Homo sapiens: one gene and its partners. The protein of the gene in region 1 interacts with the protein of each later gene in a pairwise test. Each region holds a gene or a part of one and is shown in the gene's direction. Other genes may lie near its edges. The genes, in order: RNPS1, PSTPIP1, ABI2, CLK3, ZNF286A, STX11 and ZSCAN30.

What was found.
Region 2: the proteins of RNPS1 (region 1) and PSTPIP1 interact in binary tests that used the Homo sapiens proteins (3 or more experiments, as listed by UniProt).
Region 3: the proteins of RNPS1 (region 1) and ABI2 interact in binary tests that used the Homo sapiens proteins (3 or more experiments, as listed by UniProt).
Region 4: the proteins of RNPS1 (region 1) and CLK3 interact in binary tests that used the Homo sapiens proteins (3 or more experiments, as listed by UniProt).
Region 5: the proteins of RNPS1 (region 1) and ZNF286A interact in binary tests that used the Homo sapiens proteins (3 or more experiments, as listed by UniProt).
Region 6: the proteins of RNPS1 (region 1) and STX11 interact in binary tests that used the Homo sapiens proteins (3 or more experiments, as listed by UniProt).
Region 7: the proteins of RNPS1 (region 1) and ZSCAN30 interact in binary tests that used the Homo sapiens proteins (3 or more experiments, as listed by UniProt).

The regions. Positions count from the first base shown.
Region 1 is NC_000016.10:2,261,627-2,265,126, reverse strand, and holds part of RNPS1 (RNA-binding protein with serine-rich domain 1), read left to right. Parts: intron 1-366; 5' UTR 367-483; coding exon 484-554; intron 555-795; coding exon 796-951; intron 952-1,839; coding exon 1,840-2,031; intron 2,032-2,284; coding exon 2,285-2,387; intron 2,388-2,695; coding exon 2,696-2,849; intron 2,850-3,500. UniProt on the Homo sapiens protein: Part of pre- and post-splicing multiprotein mRNP complexes. Auxiliary component of the splicing-dependent multiprotein exon junction complex (EJC) deposited at splice junction on mRNAs.
Region 2 is NC_000015.10:77,012,126-77,015,625, forward strand, and holds part of PSTPIP1 (proline-serine-threonine phosphatase-interacting protein 1), read left to right. Parts: intron 1-3,500. UniProt on the Homo sapiens protein: Involved in regulation of the actin cytoskeleton. May regulate WAS actin-bundling activity. Bridges the interaction between ABL1 and PTPN18 leading to ABL1 dephosphorylation.
Region 3 is NC_000002.12:203,376,894-203,380,393, forward strand, and holds part of ABI2 (abl interactor 2), read left to right. Parts: intron 1-3,314; coding exon 3,315-3,491; intron 3,492-3,500. UniProt on the Homo sapiens protein: Regulator of actin cytoskeleton dynamics underlying cell motility and adhesion. Functions as a component of the WAVE complex, which activates actin nucleating machinery Arp2/3 to drive lamellipodia formation.
Region 4 is NC_000015.10:74,625,836-74,628,268, forward strand, and holds part of CLK3 (dual specificity protein kinase CLK3), read left to right. Parts: coding exon 1-133; intron 134-1,516; coding exon 1,517-1,611; intron 1,612-1,703; coding exon 1,704-1,833; intron 1,834-2,134; coding exon 2,135-2,217; intron 2,218-2,433. UniProt on the Homo sapiens protein: Dual specificity kinase acting on both serine/threonine and tyrosine-containing substrates. Phosphorylates serine- and arginine-rich (SR) proteins of the spliceosomal complex.
Region 5 is NC_000017.11:15,719,020-15,721,287, forward strand, and holds the end of ZNF286A (zinc finger protein 286A), read left to right. Parts: 3' UTR 1-1,768; downstream 1,769-2,268. UniProt on the Homo sapiens protein: May be involved in transcriptional regulation.
Region 6 is NC_000006.12:144,157,017-144,160,516, forward strand, and holds part of STX11 (syntaxin-11), read left to right. Parts: intron 1-3,500. UniProt on the Homo sapiens protein: SNARE that acts to regulate protein transport between late endosomes and the trans-Golgi network.
Region 7 is NC_000018.10:35,255,730-35,259,229, reverse strand, and holds part of ZSCAN30 (zinc finger and SCAN domain-containing protein 30), read left to right. Parts: exon of another isoform or gene 1-1,291; coding exon of another isoform or gene 1,292-1,302; intron 1,303-3,500. UniProt on the Homo sapiens protein: May be involved in transcriptional regulation.

The DNA.
Region 1 (3,500 bases):
TAGGTTTTTCTCTGTTCTGCATGTGAATGTGGTGCTGTGGCATTTTGAAAGGACTGCAGGGGCTCATCAAACTTGTGGGTGAAAACTGAATTGTTCAGCCTGTAAAATAACAGTGATGGTCTCCACCATCTCCATTTTTTAAGAAAAAGATACGCTGGGGCGACAGTTGTACCTGTGCCTCCTCTGCGGGGTAGAGACGCCTCCAGGAGCACATGGGGACTGTCCCTATGTGTTCCTGACTGTGTGGACACTTATTGCTTACCGTGCTCCCTTGCTGCCTTTTTGTGTGCTCAGCTTTTGACTGCAAAGTAGACTTGTTGCCTTGCCAATTCGTTCACTCTTTAAACCCTTTTATCTTGTTATTAGGCTGCTCTTTGGCGTAAATTGCAATCGATTAGGGATCGTTTCTCAGAATCAAGTTAGAAGTGAGAGTTCAGATAAGTGAGGCCGCCATTGCTGCTTTGAACACCTCAGAAGGGGAGAATGGATTTATCAGGAGTGAAAAAGAAGAGCTTGCTAGGAGTCAAAGAAAATAATAAAAAGTCCAGCACTAGGTAATCCTTCTGTAAGATTTTTCTAGTGCTACTTGGGGGTGCTTACTGCTAGGGACCCGCAGAAAGGGGAAAGTTGAGAATGTTCTGCATTCTACAGTGAGTGTTCTGAGCCACAGACCACTTTGCTCTGTGGTCACCTCGGGTCTCTGTGGCCCTGCTGATGCTGATCCCCCGTTTTGGGTTGTGCTGTTTGGGTTTGGTCAGAGGAGCACGCAATCTCACACTCTTCCTCACCATCCAGGGCTCCTTCACCTACCAAACGCAAAGACCGCTCAGATGAGAAGTCCAAGGATCGCTCAAAAGATAAAGGGGCCACCAAGGAGTCGAGTGAGAAGGATCGCGGCCGGGACAAAACCCGAAAGAGGCGCAGCGCTTCCAGTGGTAGCAGCAGTACCAGGTGGGGCGGGCTGGCCTGGAGCCTGGAGAGGACCTGTGCCACAGCTACACCCCCACTCCCCACAGATGGCTCGGTTTTCTTGATTATTTACAAAGAAAACACATCCTCTGATTGTTAGTAGAGACCCTAATTTATGGCAGACTGGCTAGGTGCAGTGGTGGCTCATGCCTATAATCCCAGCACTTTGGGAGGCCGAGGCAGGAGGATTGCTTGGGGCCTGGAGTTCAAGACCAGCATGGGCAACAAAACAAGAGCTCGTCTCTACAAAAAAAAAAAAAAAAGAGTAATTTGTAAAATTAGCTGAGCGTGGTGGCATGCATCTGTAGTCCCAGCTACTTGGGAGGGCTGAGGCAAGAGGATGGCTTGAGCCCAGGAGTTTGAGGAAAATAAACAAAACTAGCCGGGTGTGGTGGTACACGCCTGTACTCCCAGCTACTCGGGAGGCTGAGTCAGGAGGATGGCTTGATTCCAGGGGGTTGAAGCTGCAGTGTGCGGAGATCATGCCACTGCACTCCAGCTTGGGTGGCAGACCCTGTCTCAAAAGAAAAAATCAACCTAGCCTGGGTCAGCATCAGCCAGCAGCTGCCTTCCCAGCCTGAGTTGGCAGTTGTGACTTTTGCCAGAGTCCTTTGCCTCCCAGCAGGAAAGGCTTCTGTATGGGTAGAAGGCAGCCCATCACCTCTGTCCTGTCCCACACACAATGTGACACCTAGGGCTCTGACTTGCTGGGGGATTGGGGGGTGATGTTTTCCCCACTGCTGAAAGCAGTGAGGCCTGGAGGCACCCGAACAGCAGGTTTCTCCTGGGGGGAGCACAACAGAATTGGAGGAGGCGTCTGTACTGTGAGACTTGGTGTGTGGTGGTTGTGACCCCTCATCTTGCCCTCAGGTCTCGGTCCAGCTCGACTTCCAGCTCAGGCTCCAGCACCAGCACTGGCTCAAGCAGTGGCTCCAGCTCTTCCTCAGCATCCAGCCGCTCAGGAAGCTCCAGCACCTCCCGCAGCTCCAGCTCTAGCAGCTCTTCTGGCTCTCCAAGTCCTTCTCGGCGCAGACACGACAACAGGAGGCGCTCCCGCTCCAAGTGAGTGCCCTGCGCCTGGGAGCTAAAGTTTACAAGCTCGGGGCTACAGATTTACCATCGAGGTTATAAAAGGGACCCAAAAGGAGTCTTTCTGTGTTAATAGGATTTCTGAGACAGGAATAATGTATGTGAACTAGCAGGAAAGTCTTCCTTATGAAAACTGTCACACAAGCAGATAAGAGCTTACTCGAAAGGCGTCTAGTACATTTTGACTTGACAGAAATTGTTTCTGGTGTTTTGTTTTCTCAATCAGATCCAAACCACCTAAAAGAGATGAAAAGGAGAGGAAAAGGCGGAGCCCATCTCCTAAGCCCACCAAAGTGCACATTGGGAGACTCACCCGGAATGTGACAAAGGTGAGGATCATGGATCTCTCCTGTGGGCAGTGGGGTGTGGACAAGCAGGCCTGTGCCTGCAGATGAACTTAGAATGTAGCCTTTTGGAGGACTGGGGTGGTGGCATGTGGTTTGAGTACAGCATTGATTCGTTCCTCTTGGTGGACCATTAATACATGTGTCTGGGAGATTTATCCCAGAACAACACTGGTACTCATCAGATGGAATGTTTTACCCTGCCGAGGTTTTAGTCATGATGTGCTGAGCTCTCTGCGTCTGACGTGACTGACTGGTAGCTGGGCGTTGGCGTGACCCTTCTTTCCCTCTAGGATCACATCATGGAGATATTTTCCACCTATGGGAAAATTAAAATGATTGACATGCCCGTGGAAAGGATGCATCCCCATCTGTCCAAAGGCTATGCGTACGTAGAGTTTGAGAATCCAGATGAAGCCGAGAAGGCGCTGAAGCACATGGATGGAGGTGGGTGACCCTGCCACATAACCCTGACCTCTCAGAGACCCGCCGCCGCGAGGGGCTTTCAAACTGATTTCCAACTGGGCTGCACTTCTTTTTGTTTGTTTGAGACAGAGTTTCACACTTGTTGCCCAGGCTGGGGTGCAGTTCCTGGACCAAACTGAGGTTTGGGCTGCTATTTCTCATGGCCCAATAACAAGATGCACATTAACTGAGTAGGTGGAGTTTTTATTTCTGCAACCAGTTGCAGGGAAAAGGCCTGGAAATTATTGCCAGACCAACTTAAAATTACAAAGTTTTTCAGAGCTTATATATTTTTTAAGCTATATGTCTATACATATGTGTACATTTATGTAAAGACATAAGTTACTGACTTTTAATCTATTAACTAAGGATTGAGTCTTGAAGACCTTCCTCTGGAGCCTCAGTAAATTGACTTAATTTAAATGGCTGTGAGTGCTGGGGTAATTACCCTTGCTTTGCCTTCTGCTAAATCACAGCAGTTTGGGGAGTTTTCTTCCCAATAAAACTGGCTTAATCCTAAATGGGTCCTGACGTATTCTTCGTTATTTTATGTTTTAAGGCCCAGGAAAGGCCTAAGCTAAACTTTTGGTGGGCTTTTCTTATATCCCAGCCTTTGTATAAGGGCCTTGGCTT
Region 2 (3,500 bases), on another chromosome or scaffold:
CATCCATCCATCCATCCATCCATCCATCCATCCACCCACCCACCCACCCACCCATTCACCCATCCACCTGTCCATCCATCCATCCGTCCACCCATCTGTCCATCCATCCATCCACCCACTCATCCATCTACCTACCCATCCACTCATCCACCCATCCACCCACCCATCTACCCATCCATGCATCCACCCACTCACCCATCCCTCCATTTGTCCACCTGTCCACCAGTCCACCCATCCACCCACCCACCTATCCACCCATCCATCCATCCACCCACCCACCCATCTACCCATCCACCCATCCATCCACCCACCCATCTACCCATCCACCCATCCATCCACCCACCCATCTACCCATCCACCCATCCATCCACCCACCCATCCATCCATCCTTCCATCCATCCATTCATCCATCCATCCATCCATCAAGTTGTACCTGAGTGTTTGGTCCTTTGCCTGCCTCACTTTGCCAACCAGTAATGGTGGAGAGGAGTCCCACTGTGGGGTACTGACTGTAGGGCGGTGGAAGGAGCCTGGTTGCTACCCATTGACTTAGCATCCCTGTGCCTCTGTTTCCGTATCTATACAATGGGGATGATAATTCCTGTCTCAGAGGACTGTTGTAAGAAGTAGAGGGGACCAGTGTGACTGGCTTCTTTAAAGGTGCTGGGTAATGGGTCATTGAATCTGCAAGCAAATGATCTGGTCCCCTCCATGGGGCACCTCAGGAAGCAGCCGTCATAAGGCCTTGTCCTCTTGAAGGCCTCACTGAGGCGCTTCTCCAGCCCATCACTCAGCATGTCTGTGAGCAGAGCTGTGTGTAGGCACCAGGTGCCGGGATCCAGTGGGGAACCTGAAAGACCCCCCTCTGCCTCCATGGAGCTCAGCCCTTCCTACCTCAGGTTTTCAGTCCACAGAAGACAAGCAACAGGAAACTAGGTGCTAGCAAACCCACAGTGTCAGCCACACTGGCTGCAGATGTCACTGCTGGTGTGAGGGAGGAGAGCACCCCAGCACCATGCAGCTCCGTGCAGCTACCTTCCAAAGCTGCTGCTACGTCTTGCTTCCCCACCTGTGGCCCATGCTGGAGCTTTCCCAGTCATCTTCAGGTGTAACCCAATCCAGTCCAAGCTAGTATCACAATTTCACTCTCATTCAATTTAAAGCTCCCCAGTTCCCCGACTTTCACTGGAAGCCTCTGATGGGGAAAAGAGAACAGGGTCAGTTTCCTCCCTTGCCATGGGGTACCCACACTGCACTGCCAGCTGCCTCTGGGGTCTCCATGGGGGGGTGGTGGGGCACAGGCCGTGACTGTAAAGGGGAGAAACATCTCATTGCCCTGGTACTGTTGTAACTGGTGACAGTGAATGCACACAGGTCAGCCCTTTCTCTCCCTGGCACCTGGGCAGGTTTTTTGGTGACCCTGCCCCCCTGGAGTCCCTGACCACTCCGTTCCCTACAGCCTTCCACTTCCAACCTCTCCCGTTGCACCCAATAGTCTGCTCCACTCAGCTTCTCCTAGGGGCTCCTCTCTCCCTGTCAGGCTATTCTCATGGACAGAATTACCAGGCAGCTCTTCCTGGCTACCTTCCACGGCCCCCACTTGGTTCCCAGGGAAGATTTTGGTGCCAGTTCTTGGACATAGCAGGTAGGAACTCGGACCAAAACCCAGGTGTCCCCCTCCAAGGTTGGAGGCTTAGCTGTCCTCTGATAGATGCTGTATTCTGGAGTGCCAGGCAAGGGAGCATTTGAAAAAGGCTCTGCTCCCCTTTAAATGGAACCTCTGGTGGAGGAAGGTGTGTAGGGCGAGAGGGGAGGTGATGAGGTGACTCATTTCTTCCAGCCTGGCCCCAGCTGAGGGAAGGTGTTTCTGGTCGGGGAGGTGGCAGGCAGGCGGGGAGGGCTCGGGGAGCTGCTGCTTGCTGAACTGCCCCTGGGTGACAGGCCCTGAGTGTGGGGCTTTGCAGAGAGGCAAAGTAATGGGAAGTTAACAGCCAAGATCGTGGCTTGGGATATCTGGGTTATATCCCAGCTGCACCCGGCAGGTCCCTGGGCAGATTGGGTAACCTCTCTGGGTTACCTTTTCCTCATCCATAAAATGGTAGTCATCACCCCTAGCCCAGTATCTGCCTTGTGGTGAGCCCTGATCTTGAGTCCACTGTTCTCACCTATGCGCACGATTTCACTTGCTTCTCGGGTCACCTCTAGGCGGTGAGAACTATTAGGCCCATTTTCACAGGGAAGGAAACAGGCTGAGAAGGGCCAGGGTCACGGGAGGTGTGAACCCACATCTAGTCAGTCAGACCCTTCCCAGCCTCTCAAACAGGCCCGAGTACCCTCTCTGACCTGTGGCCTACACTAACAGGACTGTGCCCTAGAGGGGCGGGCTGTCAGGGCCCGAAAGGGGGTTAGCCTCCTGCCCCCACTTTCCCAATGAGGAAACCAGGTCCTGAGAAGTAAAGTGGCTTGCTTCAGGCCCTGGTGTCTGTGGTCTCGCCCCTGCAGCCACCAAGAGTTATGGGCGTGAAAAGGGGGAAGTGGCGGTAGTTACAGAGGGTGCTTCTCCACTCAAGCCGTGGGGGTGTGGAGGGCCCTGGCCGGCTCACAGGCCTGGGCCGTGGCTCACACCAACACCCACCAGAGAATGAAGCCAGTAGGCTGTCCCTGACAGAACAGGGCACCCAGGCCTTGGCCACACTGCCTCAAGGCAGAGGCAGGAATATGTTTCCTCCCAAGAGCCTCCTCCTGGAGTTCTGGGATGCCGCCTGAGGCCGATGGCCACACACCATGGACGGCGAGGGCTGGGTCCCACATCTGGCTCAAGTGAGCCTCCCAGAGGAAGAGACTGTGCCCGCTCCCCACCTGGCACCCCTAATCCAGGACGGGTTATCCTGGGTGCCACATGGCTGGGCCGTGACCACTGGCTGTTCATGGGTTACCCAGAGCCGCACTCCTCTGACCCAGCCTGGGCCCCAGGCTAGCCTCTGTGAATCCACAGTAACTGAATTATAGCCCAAAATACAGCTTTGATTTGAGGTGGAGATAATTTGAGTAATCATTTTCAAGAGTTATTTTTTCAAATCATGTTTGGATGTTCCAAAATAGAAAATGGTTCCTGGGCTGTCTACTAAATGGCTGATGTAGGTATATGGCTTTGGGGACAGGTTGACCTGCATTCAGATCCCAAACTCTGCCCTTTACCCATTGAGTGGCTTTGGGCAGTCTCTTTCCCTGTTTGGGCCTCCTGTCCCCATCTTCGCCTCCCGAGATCTGTGTTGTGGTCAGGAAGATAACGCTATGATACCCTTGGTGCAGTGTGTGCCAGGTAGACTTGATAAATAGAGATTTCACAAAGGGCAGGGCCACAGGCAGCATTCGGATGACAGAGGTTGGACAGGATGAGGGGAGATGGAGGTAAGAGGAGTGGGGGACAACTAGGGTAGGTCCCCTGGGGGTGATGCTGATGCTGGGTCTTGGGTGGCAGACCCACATGACTGATTAAG
Region 3 (3,500 bases), on another chromosome or scaffold:
TTAATGCTTTTTTAAAGTCTCAATTTTTCAAACAAGAAATATGTGCTTGTTATAAAATATTACTGTGTGTTAGTGTAAATAATAAGTGGAAGATTACTTCTCCCTGTTCATTCTCTGGAGATTTATTAATATTTCTAGTATGTGCCAGGCATAGTGGCTCATGCCTATAATCCCAGCACTTTGGGAGACTGAGGCAGGAGCATTGTTTGAGGTCAGGAGTTCAAGACCATCCTGGGCAACACAGTGACATCCCATCTCTACAAAAAATAAAATTAGCTGGGCATGGTGGTACATGCCTGTAGTCCTAGCTACTCAGGAGGCTGAGGTAAGAGGATGCTTGAGCCTAGGAGTTCAAGACTACAGTATGCTATGATTGTCCCATTGCACTCCAGCCTCTGTGACAGAGTGAGAACCTGTTGCAAAAAAATGTATATTTATAGTATGCAGATGTGAAATAGAAGCTATAAGCTTGTAATTCTGTTATGGCTGCTCAGGTTTACACTCTTATAGTTTCATTTCTGAATAAGTTAAGTACATTTCTAAAAACTGAGGAGAATAAAAACAATGTCTTGAGGATTGTGTTATCTGATGAACCTTTTATTGATCTGACGAAGACCCATTTTATAAAAAAAGTGTCATATTTTATTTTTTGAAGCATACTTGATGGTATGAAATGGTATTTCTAGCCCATACTTTTAATGATTTAGAATGACTCACTAAACTTTATTCAAGGCCAGTACATTGGCTTACTCCTGTAATCCCAGCACTTTGGGAGGCCAAGGTGGGTGGATCACTTGAGCTTAGGAGTTCAAGACCTGCCTGGGCAACATGGAAAAACCCCAACTCTACAGACAGTAGAGAAATTAGGCCAGCATGGTGGAACACGCCTGTAGTCCCAGCTCCTTAGGAAGCTCAGGCGGGAGAATCATTTCAGCCTGAGAGGTCGAGGATGCAGTGAGCCATGATCGGGCCAGTCCACTCCAGCCTGGGCGACAGAGTGAGATACTGTCTCATAAAAATAAAATTTAATCCAAATGTGATTAATTTCCATTTCTCTAAAGTTAAAAATTAAGTGAATTCCAATATCATCACTAATATGCAAGCTTAACTTTTCTGTTACAGTTTTCCCAAGCAGTTGAAGAGGAAAGCTATTCTCATAATTAGCCTAACATGCGTAGAAAAGTTTAGAGATTATTTTTTTTCTTTTTCTTTTTCTTTTCTTTTCTTTTTTTTTTTTAAGATGGAGTCTCGCTCTGTTGCCCAGGCTGGAGTGCAGTGGCACAATCTCGGCTCATTGCAAGCTCTGCCTCCTGGGTTCACGCCATTCTCCTGCCTCAGCCCCCCAAGTAGCTGGGACTACAGGCACCCGCCACCATGCCCGGCTAATTTTTGTATTTTTAGTAGAGACGGGGTTTCACCGTGTTAGCCAGGATGGTCTCGATCTCCGGACTTTGTGATCCGCCCACCTTGGCCTCCCAAAGTGCTGGGATTATAGGCGTGAGCCACCATGCCTGGCTGAGATTGTTTTTTTCTTGAATACTTAAAATTGTAAGATTACTACCATGGTTAGTTTTTTATTTGATGTTCCATTTATACATTCGTTAGCTCTGGAACATATAGATCCTGTTGTTTTTAAGGTCTCTTGGTTGTAGAGAAATAAGAGGCTTTGAATTTGTTTCAGGCTTACCTCATACTTGAGGCAGTTTAGAAGGATAAATGATCAGTGTTCAGATTTCTTAAAGCAGTATTTTATAATGTCATGATGATTATCTTTTCACTGTTACTACCAGGTTCTTTTAGAAAGGGGAAATTGAAGTAGGACATTGAAGTGGGACTGGGGAGGAGTTAGCAAAAAATGTGTCTGTTGATTGCTGCTTGAGCCAGGAATTGGTGGTAAGAGATGTGAACCATTTTAGTGAAGTGATTTTTCAAACTCTTTTGACTGCGACACACAGGAAAAAATTTTTTTTACGTTGTATTCAGCACATAATTCATGTATATATTTATATATATAATAAACAGACTTTTCAAGAAACAGTATTTTACCTTACTATGTGTACATGCAGTCTGATGTTTCTGTTCTATTTGATTTGAAATAATTGCTGCTTACATACCACTAAATTGCAGCTTGCAGTTTAAAAAATTTTGCTTTAGTGTACTAATTACCTGTGTATGTGGAGAAATTCACCCTCTGTTAGCAAATAGAAGATTGTAATTACAATACATTCTTACTCGTATGTCTTATGTGAGCATTTAATAAATATAAATAAATTAATGAAATATTTTACAGGCATTTTGTCATGATAAAATATAAGCAGCTTTGCCCAAGCAACTTGGTCTTTTGGGGTCAAAAAATGGCTTTTTTGTTTTTTGACACAGGGTCTTGCTCTGTCACCCAGGCTAGAGTGCAGTGGTGCATTCATGGCTCACTGCAGCTTTGACCTCCTGGACTCAAGCAGTTCTCTTATTTCAGCCTCTCAGTTAGCTGGGATTACAGGCATGTGCTGTCATACCCAGCTACTTTTTGTAGAGACGGGGTTTCGCCATGTTGCCCAGGCTGGTCATGAACTCCTGGGATCAAGCAATCTGCCCACCTTGGCCTCCCAAAGTGCTTGGATTACGGGCCTGAGCCACTGTGCCTGGCTTTATTTTTAACATTATATTTCAGCCCTCTTTCTTTTTAAATAAAAAGATGTTTAAACATGAATAGAAATTATACTAATAGGTCATTAGAAATGTAACTAGATTAATTTCGGGGGCTTTCTTAATCACTATATTAGTCTAAATCTTAATGGAGAGGGAAAAATTAGCATGCTTTAACCCAGGGGTTGGCAAACCTTTTCTGTAAAGGAGCCAGCTAATATATACTTCAGTTTTTGTGGGCCATACCATCTCTGTTGTGGCTCATCTCTGCCATTACAGTGTAAAGCCTAGACAGATAAGCAAGTGAGCGGCATGGCTGTATTCCAATAAAACTTTACTTATGGAAAAGCAAATTTGAATTTTATATAATTTTCACGTGAAGGTTTTTTTTGGTTGTTCTTTTCTCCAAACATTAAAAAATGTAAACACCACTCTTAGCTTGTGGGCTGTAAAAATCAGATGATGGGCCAGATTTGGCCTGTGGGCCATGGTTTACCAGCCCTTGCTTTAACCTAAAAATGGAGAAAATCAGTAGTCCAGAAGAATAAAAATTTAGCAAGCATAGTTTAGAATATGAGTAGCAATATTAAATCTCTAGGCATATATATTTTGATTTTTGTGGATATTAGAACTATACATTTTTGTGTTGTTTTTTACATTATATTTTGCAGACAGTTGATATTCATAAAGAGAAAGTTGCAAGAAGAGAAATTGGTATTTTGACTACCAATAAAAACACTTCAAGGACACATAAGATTATTGCTCCAGCCAACCTTGAACGACCAGTTCGTTATATTAGAAAACCTATTGACTATACAATTCTAGATGATATTGGACATGGAGTAAAGGTAGGTATA
Region 4 (2,433 bases), on another chromosome or scaffold:
CACGGTCACATGTGCATCGCCTTTGAGCTCCTGGGCAAGAACACCTTTGAGTTCCTGAAGGAGAATAACTTCCAGCCTTACCCCCTACCACATGTCCGGCACATGGCCTACCAGCTCTGCCACGCCCTTAGATGTAAGTGTCCACCCTCAAAAGAAGCATGGGCAGCCACATGCCTGCAGCCAAGTCATCTGGTTACTTGTTGTCCCCATTCATTCCAGCACGTTACTAACCATTCTCCTGGGCCTGAGGGACACCAGATCCCCTTTGGCGGAAAGGCCTGTCTTTGGGTGGGAATCTCAGTGTGAGGATGGAAAGGCTAGGGCTCCCTCCAGGGACCTCCTGGACCAGCCTCTCTACCCCCAGGCACTCAGGAAGAAAACAGAAACGAACTGCTCTGGAATTGGCCTAACCACCAACCCTGCCTCCCTGCTTCATGCATGGGATAAAAAGGTAGAAGCCTGACCTGACAGATAGCACCACAGGTCCTGCCCACATGGAGACCCTCGGTCTAACCCTGACTTGTCATCTCCCTGCCAGCCTGGAAAAGCATTATTTGGCAGTGCCAGGGCTCAGCGCAGTAGGATTTGCAATGGTTGCAGCAGTACAGAAAGGCTCCTTGGTGAAGTTGGTAGGCGTTGAGCTAGAATCGCTCAAGGTCACCCCGCATCGCTCCCCTACCCTGAGCACTGCTACTGTGATAGGCTGCAGGCCACTGGGGTGGGAAGCCCCACATGGATGAGAAGACAGGTGTCTTCCTCCTCCCACAGGATCTGCAAGATGGGACAGGGACAAGGATTCCAAGCAAGGGGAACAGCTTGGTGAGGCCTGGAGCCTGTTAACGGGCTGAGAATTGGCTCCAGTGGAGTAGACTGCCACTGGGGAGTGGTGGGCCACATAGTTGTGAGGGTCTTGAGTGCCAGATGGGATCCTTGAGCTGAAAAGTGACTACTAGCAAGAAGCCACTGTCAGAAGGGGCTGGAGGGGAAAGGCTTGCCTGCTTATGACTAGCAATGAGAGGCGGGGCTGTCTTCCTGGGTATGCGACCTGTGCACTCAGTCGCACAGGACCCTGTGCTTGATTTAATGTCCTTTTGCCACCACCTTAATATTCTTAGTAACTTGAACAGGGGACCTGCATTTTCATTTTGCAAAGGGCCCTGCAAATTATGTAGCTGGTGCAGGGAAGAGGGAACCACCTCGAGGCTGTTGCTGTAGCTCTGCTGAGAGACAGGTGAGGAGGCCTGGTCTCTGCAGAGGAGAGGTGGAGGGAGGTTTTTCGAATGGCAAATTTCTTTCCTACCCCCCTGCTAAAGTATCAGAACCCTCCAAGGCCTCAAGTACAGAGAACCCTTGAGAGGGAGGCCAGCACAGAGGCAGGCTGTAGTCCAGCTCCCTGCTGAGGTGGGGGTGTGAGGACCTCTGGCAGTTGCTGGCATTGGAAGAGGGGTCTGGCCTAGAGCTGGCAGGAGAGCCAGCTTCTCAGTGCCTACTTCCCCTTCTTTCCCTGCTACCTTAGTTCTGCATGAGAATCAGCTGACCCATACAGACTTGAAACCAGAGAACATCCTGTTTGTGAATTCTGAGTTTGAAACCCTCTACAATGAGCACAAGGTATTGGTGGGGGTAAGGGTGAGGCCCTGTTTCAGGGGTGGGTTACCCGCTGGTGCAGACTCCTGACCTGGCAGGCCTGCCTTGCCTTTCAGAGCTGTGAGGAGAAGTCAGTGAAGAACACCAGCATCCGAGTGGCTGACTTTGGCAGTGCCACATTTGACCATGAGCACCACACCACCATTGTGGCCACCCGTCACTATCGCCCGCCTGAGGTGATCCTTGGTGAGTGACTGTATGGCCTGTGACCTTGTCATACTGGACTGTTGTTGGGAGGGTATGAGCAGAGGCAGTGGCATGCCTGTCATTCTCTGCCACCCAGGGCAGGCAGAGTTTCTCAGACCAAGGGGCCAGTGTCATGAGACACAGGTGACTGACCTGGCTTTATCTGTCAGCCTTACTGAGAGAGGGCCTCGTACTGGGATTTGGGCAAGAGTCCTGCCAGCCGGTGTGGTGGCTGCCTTGTGACTTCCAGGCTGGAAGCATAAGGCCGGATCTCACAGCCTCTCCCCATCTTGGCTTGCAGAGCTGGGCTGGGCACAGCCCTGTGACGTCTGGAGCATTGGCTGCATTCTCTTTGAGTACTACCGGGGCTTCACACTCTTCCAGGTACAGCCACCCTGCATTGGTCCCCTACCCTGAGTACTGCTACTGTGATAGGCTGCAGGCCACTGGGGTGGGAAGCCCCACATGGATGAGAAGACAGGTGTCTTCCTCCTCCCACTAATCATCATGTGAGATTCAGACCCTTTAAGGATGTAGATGCTAAAGGGAAGGCAGAGGTCAGGGTAGCTGGAACACTCAGAGGAGTCTTATGCTAGGCCA
Region 5 (2,268 bases), on another chromosome or scaffold:
TCATGAGAAACTACCTGCGTGGTCCAGTCACCTTGCACCAGGCCCCACCTCCCACATTGGGGATTACAATTAAACATGAGATTTGGGTGGGGATACAGATCTAAACTGTATCATTACTCAAAAAAAAAAAAAAAAAGAAAGAAAAGAAAACACAGGAAAAGGAACTCACCTCTTTTATCATCTTAGTATTTAGTACTAATGGTTTAGAGCAGGAATTGACAAACTGTGGCCTGGACTCATGGACCAACTCTGGCCCACCACCTGTTTCTCAGAAGAAAATTTTATTGGAACTCAGCCACACTTACTCATTTACATGTTGTCCTTGACTGCCTTTGTGTCCAGTGTCAGAACTGAGTAGCTGCAGCGGAGGTTGTGCCTCTGGGCTTTAATATCACAAACAGAGCAGCTTATAAGCAACAGAAACTTACTTCTCACAGTTTTGGAGGCTGGGAAGTCCAAGATCAAGGTGTCAACATATTTAGGGTCTAGGGAAGGTCTGCTTCTTGGTTAATAGAAAGCACCTTTCACTGTGTCTTCACATGGTAGAAGGGGAGAGCTCTGGTATCTTCAGCCCCTTATAAGGGCACTAATCCCATTCATGAGAGCTCCACCCTCACGACCTAATCACCTCCAAAAGGCCCCATTTCGTAATACCGTCAGTTAAGTTTCATTATATGACTTTGATGGGGATATAGCCCATAGTAGGTTGTATGTCCCTGAAAGCCTAAAATATTTACTGTTTGGCTCTTTACAGAAAATATTTTCTTGGCCCCTGTTCCAGAGCATTCATCAAGTCAGATAAAGGGTTTAAACCAGTCAGAGAAACTAGGTGGAATGGAAAAGTACTGAGAGATAATTGGGGACAGAAAAATAAAAGAGATGGGAAATGCTGCATCAAAATACTCCTACCTCTAGGATGTTACTATATATTGTTAGGAGAATTCAAGTTATTGAAACTTGCCAAATTCTTGAGTGAAGAGGAATTCATTTGAGAGCCAAAATTTGACTAAGGAAAGAAGACCAACATGGGCTTTCCAAAGTTGAGTTTGAATTCTGCCATCCCCACTAAGCAGTCATGTGACCTTGGAAAAACTCCCTACTCTGAGTCTCAGTTTCTTTATCTGTATTAGGTTTCAACAAAGGGAATAAATCATTGGCTTCTCATGAGGTTGTCATAAGGATTAAATAAGACAATGCATATAAAAGAACTGGCAGACAATAAATATAGAGTCCCCCACTCCTGCTTGGTGCTCTCTTTCTCTCTCCTTCTCTACATAGAGAAGTGCCAGAGCATCCGTCAGTAGAAGTTACTTAAGGTTGGCTGTGTCTTCCACATCTTTTGTTTACCCATGAAGAACTGTGACCATCTTGTTCTGTGTCTTGTCATAAAGATGGGACGTGACTTCTTTCTGCTCTTGCTTCCATCTGGTGCTGTTTTCTGCACAGCCTCCTTGAGACCTTCCAGAACCTTCTTTTTTCCTACTTCATATCACTTAACCAGTAGCTATCTGGGATGGTTCCAGAGGCTGAAGTTTGCAGTTGAATAACATTTTAAATAGTGTTAAGCGACTTGGGATCTCTGGCCCTTTGCGTTTCAGTATTTGTCCTTTTTATGCCTGATGTTTAACCTGCCACATGTTTGTACTGCAACATGAATCTTGGAAATTTTAATGTTATGCATTTCAAATGTTTTTGGTTATCTGTAAACTAAATGTGCCCTTATTGGCTCACTTGTCAATAAAGATGTTTGTATATGTATTGTCAGAAACTTTTGTAAATTGCTTTTAAATTCTTCCTTTTTTAAAGCATATTTTAAGATGTAATGAAGGACCAACCAAAAAATATCTCCATATCATTCAGGATACCAATCCCATTTCTAGCTGGTCATCTGGCTTCACAACTTCTGGAGAGATGGGATGGGAGATACCGTCAGCAACCCAAGTATCTGCAAGAAGGTTAAGGAGTAGAGGAAGATAGTTTCTAACAAGTAGTACTGAGTCCCCAGGCCAGGTATAGGCACTACTCAGTAGGGCTAATTGGGGTGAAAGGGAGGGAATAACTTCGTATAAAAAGCACAGTTAAAATTAGGCAAAATGGGCCAGGTGCGGTGGTTCAAGCCTGTAATCCCAGCACTTTGGGAGGCTGAGGGAGGCAGATCACCTGAGGTCAGGAGCTCGAGACCAGCCTGACCAACATGGAGAAACCCCATCTCTACTAAAAATACAAAATTAGCCAGGCATGGTGACACATGGCTGTAATCCCAGCTAC
Region 6 (3,500 bases), on another chromosome or scaffold:
AATGCAGAGGCCTGCTACATGATGCTGTCAGGACTTGACTGAAAGGCGCAAGTTCAGTGTCTCAGGTCAAGTTGCCAGGAAACAGACCCTGAGACTCTGAGATTTCCATACAGGAGGTTTTTATTGGGAAGTGCTCTGGGCACAATACACAGTAGGAGAGAGGGAAACGGGATTGCACAGGGGGAGAGACTGAACTGTGGGGCATGCACAACAGCGGCCTCAACAGGGAGGAGCTTGGAAGCTGGGATTGTTGTTCAGAATTGTTCTGCCTCCTGAGGCAAGAGGCTCAGCATTTGTACCTACATCAACTAATCATTGGATGCAGGCAGCAGCTCCCTTCAGTCCAGGGCAATTTCTGGAACTGGGAGCCTTCAGCAGCCAACCTTCCTAGTACCTGGGGGACTGAGGATCTTGGTCCAGAAGGGGATCTGGATACCACATCATTTACTACATTTGTAGCCAAGAGAGCATTCTCCTCTGCAACAGCCTTGTTTGTGTCTGATGGCCCAGACCATCACCTTGCAGAGTGGAGCCCAGAAAGTTGTCATTTTTTTCCAAGGCCCTTAAGGATTTTAGAATAGTTGACCAGAGAGCAAGAAGACAAAGTAGTCTTAATCCTAAGAAGATTAGGAGCAGAAGAGCCAGGGAGAGTAGGCCGTGGTGAGGGCAGTAGTGGTGTTTAACAAAGAAGGCTAAACTCTGGCACCCAGAGTGGCTAAACTCAGCCACCCAAACAGCTGTGGCTATCCAGACCCAGAACAAAAGCATAACACACACCAGTCCTTGCTGTAATGCTAGGCTTTAACATTGTTAAATGTTGAACAATTTTGTGATATTAGGGTTCCCCCCGCTCTCTCTCTCGCTCTCTCTTTCAAGCCCTTGAAAGTCCTCAAACCAGTCCAGTGTGTAGTCTGTAGATTATAACCTTCAGAATTACCAAAGATATTTCAGTACAAAAAAAAAACAGGGGAAAAACAAAAAAAAAAGAAAAGAGAAATAAAAGTCCAGGGCCCCATTCTAGATCCACTGGAATAGAATCCAGGGGTGGAACCCATGAATTGACATTTTCAACACATTTTCCCCAGAAGATTTTGATACATGCTATAGTTTGAGAACCTTCACCCTAAACTCTTATGCCTTTCGTGGTGACCAACTCTATTGAGATTTTTTCAGATTATCCAGAAGTCATGGGAACCGTGGGACAGCAGAGGAGCACCGGAGCCTTAGTCCCAGCAGGCCTGGTATAGTGAGAGTCATCCCTTGCTTTTCATTTAAATTCTTGATGTGGCCAACAGACAGCACAGCCCAAATTCCTTTGCTGGCTTCTGACCAAGATTGCAAGAGGGAGAGTGGTGTCCCTGGCTTGGCCTTATACTATCTTAGATAGCAGAGTGAGAGATGCCAAATTTTTTGAATAGTTGCAGATGGGGGATGGGAATCAGTGAACTTAGAGGAATCAGTAAACTTTCTAGGAGAATAAGAAGGTTTCAGGATATCTTATGCCAGAGGAAGCTTTGAGGTGCTTTTTTTTAAACTTTAATAATTGTCTAATAAGATCAGAGATAACTTACAGGATAATGTTAAGCATTCATAAATGTAGGATGGATTTCTAGGAGAATAAGAAGGTTTTAGGATATCTTATGCCAGAGGAAGCTTTGAGGTGCTTTCTTAAAACTTTAATAATTGTCTAATGAGATCAGAGATAACTTACAGGAGAATGTTAAGCATTCATAAATGTAGGATGGTATATTATCTGATTCACTGACATTGGCAATGATTTTTTCTTCAAAGGGAAAAGCACTTTTAAGCCTACCAATTTTTACTCCTGAAACACCAAATTGCTGTGTTTCTTACACTTTCCAGGCTTCATGCCTTTGCTGAAGTTGTCTGTGCCTGGGTCCCTTTCCCTTCTCCCTACCAAGCTAACTCCTTTTAAACCTTTTAGGATCAGCTCAGACACCACCTTCCCTGCCCTGTGGCCAGACTGACTTCTCAAAGTATTCCCATAGATCCCTCTATTATGGCATTTATTATCATTATTCTCTCTAACAGCCTGTAAGAGCAAGAACAGTCTTTTTCATTTTTGTGTATGAGAGACCTAGCCTCATCAAAAATGAGTGAAAAAAATAACGATTCTGGTGAGCGTATTTATTCAACAACTATTTATCGAGGCTTTCCTATATGCCGGGTGCTCTGGAGTAAATGGTGCAGACACAACAGGTACAGCTCCTGACCCTATGAAGCTTATGGGCAAGCAGAGAAGATAAGTAACAATTGAATATGTTATCAAACAACTACCAATAAAATATGGTGAGTACCAGAAAAAGCGAAGTGAAATTATAGAGCTGGAAACCCAGCCTAGTCTAAGGTCAGAGGAAGTGTCTCATTTTCCTGAAATATAAGTTATATCAAAATAGAAGTTACGGATTTGGCTTTGGTTACAAGAGACTACTTTTTAACAAAGGAAGATCTTTTGGTTGAGCTAGTTCAAAATTGACTCTGTGTGTGTGTGTGTGTGTGTCCGTCCAGTATGTGGAAAAAGACAGTACAGGAAAATGACGCCTTCATTTAATGAGGTAAAATAGGTAACAAGGAACGGAGAGGGAAGTTTCTGTGTGTCTCATTCAATGCACCATTACTAGAAGTTACTTTGTTAATATTTTAATATGTAATATACAGTGGAAGAAAATAAATGTAAAGCTCTGAAAATCATGAACTTACATCACAGCCTTTTAAAAATTAATCTCAAGGATCTGATTACTACGGCCTAGGAGGGTGCTTGACAGATTTGCTTTTGGGTCTTGTTGGAGACAGTGGGTGAAGTGCATTGCCCCAGAAGTCCATGCCCACTGAGGTTTCTCATCTTTCCAGGTCACTTTTGATGCCCTGGGTGAAGAGGCCACAACCCCAGTGTTGCAATTTGCAACCTCCACCCAGCTTGGTGGCTCATGCTGGGTCCTTTTTCTCCTTTTCTGGCCAGTTCTTGTTTTTTAAAAAAATATTATGATTTTTGAGAGACTCTGTCGCCCAGGCTGGAATGAAATGGCACAATCTCTGCTCACAGTAACCTCCGCCTCCCGGGTTCAAGTGATTCTCCTGCCTCAGCTTCCTAAGTAGCTAGGACTACAGGTGTGCACCACCACACCCAGCTAATTTTTGTATTTTTTTAGTAGAGACGGGGTTTCACTATATTTGGCCAGGCTGGTCTCGAACTCCTGACCTCAGGTGAACCGCCTGCCTCAGCCTACCAAAGTGCTGGGATTACAGGAGTGAGCCACTGTGCCTGGCCTTTTTAAAAATTATTTTTGTACCTCCTTATTTCTCCCCATAAATTGTAAGCTTAGGGTAAGGTTTGAGACTTCCTGATTTTTAACTTTTGAAGCTTTGCAGCTCTTCTGCTGCAATTTATTTACATTTATTATATTCAATAGATAAAGGACCTTAAGTTTAATATATAAGTTAACAGGCAAATCTTGGGTTGAAAAAGTACCAGATTCGTT
Region 7 (3,500 bases), on another chromosome or scaffold:
ACAGAGTGAGACTATCTCAACAACAACAAGAAAAGAAGGTGGCCATCATCTGCAAGCCAAGGAGAGAGAAGAAACCAAACCTGCTGACACATTGATCTTGGACTTCTAGTCTCTAGAATTGTGAGAAAAGAGATTTCTGTTGTTTACCACCCATTCTGTGGTATTTTGTTGTGGAAACCCTAGTAAACATACTATATTAAAATTCTTCCTTATGTCCATATGAAATACTCCCAACTTTAATTTATTCATAATCCACTTTCTTTAGTTTACAGAGTCCTCATAAAACACAATCTATACTTGAATGCAGTGAGTACACTGCACTTTGACCTTTTTTTTTTTTTTTTTTTTTTTTTTTTTTTTGAGATGGAGTCTGGCTCTGTCGCCCAAGCTAGAGTGCAGTGGTGTGATCTTGGCTCACTACAACCTCCAACTCCTGGGTTCAAGTGATTCTCCTGCCTCAGCCTCCCGAGTAGCTGGGACTACAGGCACCCGCCACCACGCCTGGCTAATTTTTGTATTTTTAGTAGAGATGGGGTTTCACCATATTGGCCAGGCTGTTCTCAAACTCCTGACCTTGTTATCCACCCGCCTCGGCCTCCCAAAGTGCTGGAATTACAGGCATGAGCCACCGTGCCCAGCCTCCTGACCTTGTTTTAACTAAGCCTCTCACTCCCTCTGATCCCATCTGTGTTCTGTCTGTTTGGATATCTTGCCACTTTTCTCTGGACATGCTTCAGTTTCTCCACATTCATCTGAAGTTTGGGGATCAAGACAAAATAAAATACTCTAATGAGAATCTGATTGATTTAAAATATATTCACCCTCCAACTGTTATCTGTTACATTTTTTAACTTTTTATTTTCTTATTACTTCATAGTGGCAGTATGTTGTTGACTCAGTCACCATATCAGTAATAGTGACTCTATCTCTCCAATGTCCTTGGACTTAGCAAAATTTACTCGTTCTCCATTTATGCGTGGTCCCATGGCCATGAATGGCCTTGACTGGGTTCCTGTTAAGTCTCCTTATGCTAGTCTCTTTTCAGTCTTGAAAGTCTTAGCCCTGCCTCTGAAGAATTAATGTGGATCCTTTCACAGCTTTCACCTAGGTCATGAGGTTTAAATTGTTGGAGAGGCCCACTGTGATATGATTGTAAGAGTCACCATGCCATTTTTACAACCTTGAGTTATAAGTTTCTTGTAGGTGCTTCACTAGCCTCATGATATGCCTTGCCAGAAGTAGCGCCTGAGATGGAGATTTGGGTGCAGGTGATTTATTGACGATGTGTTCTTCAGGAAAAATCTGTAATGGAGAGAGAGAAGCAGGATTAGGAAGGGAAAAGAGCAAGCAATGATGTGGTCTCAGTTACAGTCTAGGCTTGGTCTAATCCTTGGAGCATTTCATGGGCCGCTGAAGCATAATTGCACTGCAGAGTTGTCTCTTCTTGACGCAGAGATGGGGCAATGAAGGTGGAAGTTACTTCCTGGGCCAAGTGGCTCTCATCAGCCTGGGTAATTCTCCACAGAAGGAGGCATCTCTGTATAGTTAGGAGCTGTCTTAATCGGTTAGGACTGCTATAACAAAATACCATCAACTGAGTGGCTTGTAAACAACACGGATTTACTTCTCACAGTTCTGGAGGCTGAGAAGTTCAAGGTGCTAGCAGATTTTGTATTTGGTAAGGTCCCACTTTCTCATGGATGGCACCTTTTCACTGTGTCCTCACGTGGTGGAAGGGGCAAATGAGCACCATAGGGCCTATTTTATAAGATCACTAAGCCCTCATGACCTAGTCACCTTCCAAAGGTCCGCACTTCCTAATACCATCACCTTGGGGGTTAGGACTTCAACATATGAATTTTGGGGAGACACAGACATTCACATCATTGGAGGAGCCAACATTCACAGTGGCTGAGGGAAGGAGGCATCATATTGGTAAAGGGGAACTGGGTGGGCAGTGGAGCATCACTGACATAGCATTAAGGCTAAAAGCATACTCGTCAATATGCAATTGAAGGCCACATCCCTAGTTAAAAGGATTTTAAACTAAACAGGATGGAATTGCTCACTGAACTGCTGAGCTGGCAGAACTCACTGAGGAGCCACCCCAGAGAACAAGTAAGAAAAGCAGGAGGTGTGTTAAAGAGAAAAGCTAGCTGGGTGTGGTGGCTCGTGCCTGTAGTTCCATCACTTTGGGAGGCTGAGGCAGGAGGATTGCTTGAGACCAGGAGTTCAAGACCAGTCTGGGCAACATGGCAAGACCCCGTGTCTACAAAAAAAATTTTTTAATTAACTGGATGCAATGATGCGCACCTGTACTCTTAGTTACTGGGGAGACTGAGGTGGGAGGATCCCTTGAGTCCAGGATTTCAAGGCTGCAGTGGCTGATAATTGTACCACTGAACTCCAGCCTGAGTGACAGAGCAAGACTCTGTTTCAAAAACAAACAAACAACAACAACAACAACAAAAACAGAAGAGCTCTTCTAACAGAGATACCTGTGCCTTATTTCTCCTCCAAAGAGCCTCTTATAAATCTGTACCCCACCCTCCAGCCTCCAGACTTGAGCCTGATTACAAATTAGTTTTCATTCTTGGGAGATAGTAATTGGGTTCTCTCTATGCAAGTATTTCTGAATAATCAAGTGACCATTTCTTATTGTAATCTTTTTTTTTTTCTTTTTGAGACAGTCTTGTTCTGTCATGCAGTGGTGTGATCTTGGTTCACTGCAACCTCCACGTCCCTGGTTCAAGTGATTCTCGTGCCTCATCCTCCCGAGTAGCTGGTATTACAGGCGTGCACCACCATGCCTGGCTAATTTTTTATACTTTTAGTAGAGATGGGGTTTTGCCATGTTGGCCAAGTTGGTTTTGAACTCCCCTGGCCTCAAGCGATCTGCCTGCCTCAGCCTCCAAAAGTGCTGGGATTACAGGTGTGAGCCACCGTGCCCAGTCTCTACTTGTAATCTCTATTTGTCTTTTCTAAGAATTACTCTAGTTAGCTATTTATTCCAACTTTTTAAATATAATAATAAATGTATAGTTGAACAAATAAAAATCTTGATGTCTTCCTGATGTATACATCTGAGGACAAAATTTTTCTCTAGTCTCATAATTTGACTTCATATAGTTACAGAATTTGAAGACGTATTTAAATCCCATAAGTTACATTGCTTTTCTAATTTTCATTGCCCTTAATTTTGTCCCTACACAATTATATTGCCACTTTATACCCTATAATTGATGCTCTTAATAATTTGACCTATTTATTACTTTCAGAAAATTTCTCATTAGGTTGTTGGGTCTCTGACTTTAACCTATTTGGTACTTTTAATTTTTATGCCTCTATTGTATGCAAGTATATTTTTCATAAATGTTTTCTTTTTGAATGAAACAATGAATAATTTAAATTTCTATCTAAAATCCAAGGACAATATGAATTTTAGAGGTGATGTCATCTGTGTTTAATTTCTGGTAAGGAATGGGGAAAACGGGAAGCCA